Homo sapiens: one gene and its partner. The protein of the gene in region 2 interacts with the protein of the main gene of each other region in a pairwise test. Each region holds a gene or a part of one and is shown on either strand. Other genes may lie near its edges.

The links. The genes of interacting proteins can lie anywhere in the genome.
Region 1: the proteins of CRADD (region 2) and TSHR interact in a two-hybrid assay, tested with the Homo sapiens proteins (one large-scale study listed by BioGRID and IntAct).

Annotation. Positions count from the first base shown.
Region 1 is NC_000014.9:81,143,714-81,146,962, forward strand, and holds the end of TSHR (thyrotropin receptor isoform 1 precursor), read left to right. Parts: coding exon 1-640; 3' UTR 641-2,593; downstream 2,594-3,249. UniProt on the Homo sapiens protein: Receptor for the thyroid-stimulating hormone (TSH) or thyrotropin. Also acts as a receptor for the heterodimeric glycoprotein hormone (GPHA2:GPHB5) or thyrostimulin. The activity of this receptor is mediated by G proteins which activate adenylate cyclase.
Region 2 is NC_000012.12:93,683,853-93,687,508, forward strand, and holds part of CRADD (death domain-containing protein CRADD), read left to right. Parts: intron 1-3,656. UniProt on the Homo sapiens protein: Adapter protein that associates with PIDD1 and the caspase CASP2 to form the PIDDosome, a complex that activates CASP2 and triggers apoptosis.

The sequences.
Region 1 (3,249 bases), on a different chromosome or scaffold from region 2:
CGCCCTGCTTCCTTTGGTGGGAATAAGTAGCTATGCCAAAGTCAGTATCTGCCTGCCCATGGACACCGAGACCCCTCTTGCTCTGGCATATATTGTTTTTGTTCTGACGCTCAACATAGTTGCCTTCGTCATCGTCTGCTGCTGTTATGTGAAGATCTACATCACAGTCCGAAATCCGCAGTACAACCCAGGGGACAAAGATACCAAAATTGCCAAGAGGATGGCTGTGTTGATCTTCACCGACTTCATATGCATGGCCCCAATCTCATTCTATGCTCTGTCAGCAATTCTGAACAAGCCTCTCATCACTGTTAGCAACTCCAAAATCTTGCTGGTACTCTTCTATCCACTTAACTCCTGTGCCAATCCATTCCTCTATGCTATTTTCACCAAGGCCTTCCAGAGGGATGTGTTCATCCTACTCAGCAAGTTTGGCATCTGTAAACGCCAGGCTCAGGCATACCGGGGGCAGAGGGTTCCTCCAAAGAACAGCACTGATATTCAGGTTCAAAAGGTTACCCACGAGATGAGGCAGGGTCTCCACAACATGGAAGATGTCTATGAACTGATTGAAAACTCCCATCTAACCCCAAAGAAGCAAGGCCAAATCTCAGAAGAGTATATGCAAACGGTTTTGTAAGTTAACACTACACTACTCACAATGGTAGGGGAACTTACAAAATAATAGTTTCTTGAATATGCATTCCAATCCCATGACACCCCCAACACATAGCTGCCCTCACTCTTGTGCAGGCGATGTTTCAATGTTTCATGGGGCAAGAGTTTATCTCTGGAGAGTGATTAGTATTAACCTAATCATTGCCCCCAAGAAGGAAGTTAGGCTACCAGCATATTTGAATGCCAGGTGAAATCAAAATAATCTACACTATCTAGAAGACTTTCTTGATGCCAAGTCCAGAGATGTCATTGTGTAGGATGTTCAGTAAATATTAACTGAGCTATGTCAATATAGAGCTTCTCAGTTTTGTATAACATTTCATACTAAAGATTCAGCAAATGGAAAATGCTATTAATTTGGTTGGTGACCACAAGATAAAATCAGTCCCACGTTGGCTCAGTTCAACTAGATGTTCCCTGATACAAAGAGAACTTGATTTCCTTAAAACTGAAAAGCCAAACACAGCTAGCTGTCATACAAGAAACAGCTATTATGAGACATGAAGGAGGGTAAGAATTAGCTTTAAGTTTTGTTTTGCTTTGTTTTGTTTTTTAACTCAACCTATTAATCATCTCTTCACAAGAATCCACCTGATGTGACCAAGCTATTATGTGTTGCCTGGAAAAACTGGCAAGATTTCAGCTTATGTGGCCTAGCAAACTAAGAATTGCTCTTCTTGGCCAGCCTCATAGCATAAAAGATGTGAACTCTAGGAAGTCTTTCTGAGTAGCAATAAGTGGGAATTATGGGCAGAGCACACTCAATCCCCTGTTGATTAATAAAACAGGCTGGACACTAATTAACTATGGGACTTAAATCTGTAGAAATGAAGGAGTCCAATAGCTTCTTCCAATTTTAAAACTCTAGTACATCCCTTTCCCTCAAATATATATTTCTAAGATAAAGAGAAAGAAGAGCACTAAGTAAGTAGAATCTGTTTTTCCTATTTTGTAGGGCTGCTGACTCCTAGTCCTTGAAGCCTAGACACATGACCCAGGAAATTTTTCCTTTGTTTCACTTTTGATTATGATGTCTGAGCCAAAAATTCAATTAAGTAAACATACTCGCCTGGATCTGAATCATTCATTTAATTACTAGATCTACCCAGCTGTTATATCAGGCCAAAAACAGATTCGTGTTTATATAAAAGAGTAAACGATGGTTGCAAATTTTGGCTATTTAGAGTTGCTACTTCACTATGAAGAGTCACTTCAAAACACTTCGCTTGTCTTTAGGGATGATTTTTGCCATTTCCAGTCCACGGTATGATACTAAAGCTGTCAAGAGAGGTTTCTTCTTTTCTGAAACTGCCAGCTCTTTCCAGCCCTGTTGATCACTGGACATAAAGCTTCTTTTCCCCAATAATTCTTCTTTACTTAAAATAGTCAGGATCTTTATCTACAGATGTACTCTCCAGGTTACCTGTGATGATAGCCCCCTAATGTCCTGCTAGAAAAGTCTCCAAGCAGAGATGACATTACTTCTGAATGCTCATAAACCACACCATGAAATAAAAGCTCTTTGTTGTTTTAAGATTGTGAAGTGTCGTTAATGGGTCCCCACAGATGGTCCCTGCTGGACTCACCTGGAATCTCTCCACAGCCATACCCACTCATCACTATCATTGAGACCTGCACATCTTAATAGAAATATTATAAACATCGAAAATCATGACTTACCTAGAAGTTCGCTTGTAACTAATGAAATTAAACAAATGTGTTGCCTTTTGTCATGTGTTTCTCTCCTGTGACATTTCAAAATATCACATCTTGATAAATAATGTGTTTCATCTTGAATAGCTGAACTAATTGCTTTGGAAACAGAGTCCTAGAAAAGTGACTTCAACAGAATTGTTACTAAAATTTGCACTCACAACATGAAATAAATTTTCTTCCTATGGAATAATCGTGCCAAGTCCTAGAGTGTTGTTCTTTTTTGTTAATCTGTGAGTTTCTTTCGGGGTTACTATTGTATGTGTTAAAACTGAAGACAAGAAAACTAATTGGCACATTTGCTAATGAATCCATATTAATAAATAAGTTGTTGACTGTCAATTAATAACTTAAATATAACATTGTGTCTTGATCAAAAGTGGTCTTTATGTGGAAAAACTTACTCCTGGTGAACTGAATTATGATTAATTGACAGGGATCACTAAGAGAAAAAACAATAAAACCAAATATATCAAGCAAATGATTGGTATTGACACTAGAAATTTAAATAGTGTGCTAATGAAGACAATAAACCTCTAAGGCCTCAGAGGCCTTATTATTATTCAGAGCTCATGTTATCTAGCACCTTTCAATTATCTGAAGATAAACCCAAATCATTGAGGATAAATGGCCACAGACTAGTCGCAGTGGAGGTCACACAATTCATTCTCTAAAGCTCATGCATGTTTCTCAAAAGGCTGTCTCTTAAAACACCCCCAAAGTTTATTGACTCTTGCTTTAAGGATAATCTACTGCATCAAAGAAGCAGCCAATGAGGAGAGGGTCTTACAGGGCAGCACCATGAGAGTGGCAATAAAGTAAAAGTCAGGGCAAAAAGAAGAAAACTATAACCACAAT
Region 2 (3,656 bases):
CGTAATTGACCTTGCTCTGCATGTAAGTTCAGTGTTGGTCTCAGTGTATCTAGCTTGCAGTCTATCCATGTGCTTCCACTGTGACTGAGTAGTGTTTGCCTAGTGGCGTCCTGTGTGCTAGAGTGAGAACAGTGGGTCAGTATCCATAGCAAGACCCTTCCCTCGGTAAAGGGAGAGTCTGCAGAGGGCCCAGGTTTCTGTGTATACCCAGCCCGATTTTCATATACTTCCTAAGGACCTACTGAATGCCAGGTACTGGGTATATAAAGACAAATGGAGGATCTCCAGATCAGTTGAGGGCATTCATGCGTTCATCCAGCAAATATTTGCTGAGTCTTGACCATGTGCTAAACCAGAGGTCCCCAGCCTTTTTGGCGTCAGAGACTGGTTTTGTGGAAGACAATTTTTCAACCAACGGGAGAGTTGGGGGGAATGATGGTTTCGGGATGAAACTGTTCCACCTTAGATTATTACCAGGCATTAGATTCTCATAAGGAGTGCGCGACCTCGATCTCTGGCATGTGCAGTTCACAATAGGTTCATGCTCCTATGAGAGTCTAATGCCACTGCTGATCCAATAGGAGGAGGAGCTCAGGTGGTAATCCTCGCTTGCCTGCCACTTACCTCCTGCTCTGCGATCCGGTTCCTAATAGGCCACGGACCGGTATGGGAGTTGGGGACCCCTGTGCAAGACAGTAGGTGCTGGAGATATAACAGTAAACAAAACAAAGCCCTTATTTTCATGGAGTTCAATGTATTCTAGTAGAGGGAGGGGATAAGGGCAGGGACAGATAATAAGCAAATGAATAAATAACATTTGGTGGTGAAGAGCGCTATGAAGAGAAGCGGTATGTGTGGTGGTGGGGGTGGTCAGGGAAAGCCTCTCTGATGAGGGGACACTGAGCAGAGAACTGAGTTTGGCTGCAGAGTTGATACAGGGAGGAGAGCTTTCAGATAGAGGGGACCACAAATACACAGGAAGTCAAGTGGGAGCCACAGGTGACAATGTGGCTAATAAGACACCTTCCTCCCTGGGATGAATCACATTCCACATCAGCAGAGGCTCAGTGGCTACCTTTTGTTTTGCTCTCAACATGTGAGATGTGTGTGCAGCCGTGATCTTGTGTGGCTCGTAGCATGACTTTAGTTGATACGTGGATGTGGGATTAAGTAATATTGAATTACATGATGAGAAAGTTATTTCCTTTCTATTTCTGTTTCAGTTCGGTAAGAATGATAGGAGGTCCTCATGCTTAAAGCCTTCTGTGGGCAACAGTATTTAGCTAGAATCTAGTTGTATTGCTTTTTTTGTGTCAACTTAATGGGTTCCTTCCATTTATGGCAAGCAAAACTTTTCTATTTACGAAGTTCCTTTTAAAAATACATGACTTTTAGAGACTAGAATTGTGGTTATTAGGGACTGGGAAGGGTATGAGGGAGGCAGGGATGGGGAGGTTGGTTAATGGATACAAAATTACAGCTAGATGGGTGGAATAAGTTCTAATGTCCTAGCACTGTAGGGTGAATATGGTTAACAGGAATTTATTATGTGTTTTCAAAATGCTAGAAGAGAGGATTTTGAATATTCCCAGCACAAAGAAAGAATAAATGTTTGACATGATGGATATACTGATTGCCCTTATTTGATCATTACACATTGTATGCATGTATTGAAATGTTACCCTGTATCCCATAAATATATACAATTTTTATGTATCAACCAAAAATAAAAAGAAAAATGTTCATAGGAATATTGAATAGGAAATAAGATTGAAAGTATACCAAATTATTTAGGAAAAAACCATTACTTACATTTAAGTAGAAATGTGTCAACATAAAGGAGACTATAAAAAAATAGGCCAGGCACAGTGGCTCACTCCTGTGATCCCAGCATTTTGGGAGGCCGAGGCGGGCAGATCACCTGAGGTCAGGAGTTTGAGACCAGCCTGGCCAACATGGTGAAACCCCCATCTCTACTTAAAATACAAAAATTAGCCAGGCGTGGTGGCAGGCGCCTGGAATCCCAGCTACTTGGGAGGCTGAGGCAGGAGAATCGCTTGAACCTGGCAGGTGGAGGTTGTAGTGAGCTGAGATCGCGCCATTGCACTCCAGCCTGGGGGACAAGAGCGAAACTTCGTCTAAAAAACAAAACCAACGGAAATAATGGTTGGGTGTAGTGGCTCATGCCTGTAATCCCTACACTTTGGGAGGCTGAGGCGGGTGAATCACTTGAGGTCAGGAGTTTGAGACCAGCCTGGCCAACATGGTGAAACCCCATTTTTACTAAAAATACAAAAAATTAACCGGGTGTGGTGGCAGGCACCTGTAATCCTAGCTAGTCAGGAGGCTGAGGCAGGAGAATTGCTTGAACTCAGGAGGTGGAGGTTGCAGTGAGCCGAGATTGTGCCACTGCACTCCAGCCTGGGCAACAGAGTGAGACTCCATCCCCCCCAAAAAAAAAAAAAAAAAAAAAGAAAAGAAAATAATAATGGTGTGAGGATGTGGCCAAAAGTTGCTTTTCATCATATATTTTTTTAATTTAAAAAGAAAGACAGGCATTTGGGGGAGGAGCCATCACCTGGCTGGCATAGTTAAAGCAGGAAGGCTCCAGTTCTAGTATAGATAGTAGATAGAGCTGTTTTCATGATGCTTCACAGTTTTGCTCTTTCAATTTATGCCCAGTGATAGGAATTAGTTAAATTAACTAGAATTTCAAAATTCGTAAGTTCTCTAAATTTTAAACACATTTACTTGCTAGTGAAACAAAGTCAGCAAGATGGAGCCATATCCTGGTATTATGAATTTTAGAACTGGGTGGGACTCACAGGTCATCTAATTTTTCTCTGAGAAAACAGAGGCCTAGGGAGATTAAGTCAACTTGCCCATGATCACACAGCTAGTTAATGTAATTTATTACTGGGACTAGAATCCAGGCTTTGCAACTCTTGATTTAGGACTTTTTCTGCTGCGCAATCTTGGCTTCCCACTGAGTTTGAAATGGAATTGTATTATGCTGCAGTGTTAATAATTGAAAGAGGCTTTTTAAAAATTGTACTAATGCATTTTTTTTTTTTTCATTTTAAGAGGAGAATTTCCAAGGGCCTTTAGAGGTATGCTGGAATGAGATTTCACTAAAATATTTTATTTTTATGAATGCTAATTTTAATCATTTAAAAGGAAATGATGATCGTTCAGTACTGCATTTTGTCACAAGATTTTTTTCTTCCTACCTCTGCAAGGCTGACATAAAGGAAAAGCGGAAGACTTTCATCGAGTATTTATGGGACTGATGAAATAATGCATCTGTTGGCAGCTAATTGCAGGTCTTTCTAGGAATAGCAAACATGTGACAGGTCTTGCCCCAGCGGAGATGCCTCCATTTCACTTTAAAACATGGATTTGGTATTCTTTTCACTTAGAAATTCTGGCTATGCCTTTTTTTCTCCCTTCTGTGGATGTATAGACCGTTCGGCTGCATCAGACACTGTATTGAACATCAGGGTTGATTTAACTCATTGTTGCTCAGCTGTGGCTATGCTTTGGAATCACCTGGGGAGCTTTTACAAAACTACTGATGCCCAGGCTCTACTCCAGGTGAATCCATTACACAATCTCTGGAGGGTGGGTTCTGGGCAATGGGATGTTAAAGGCACACA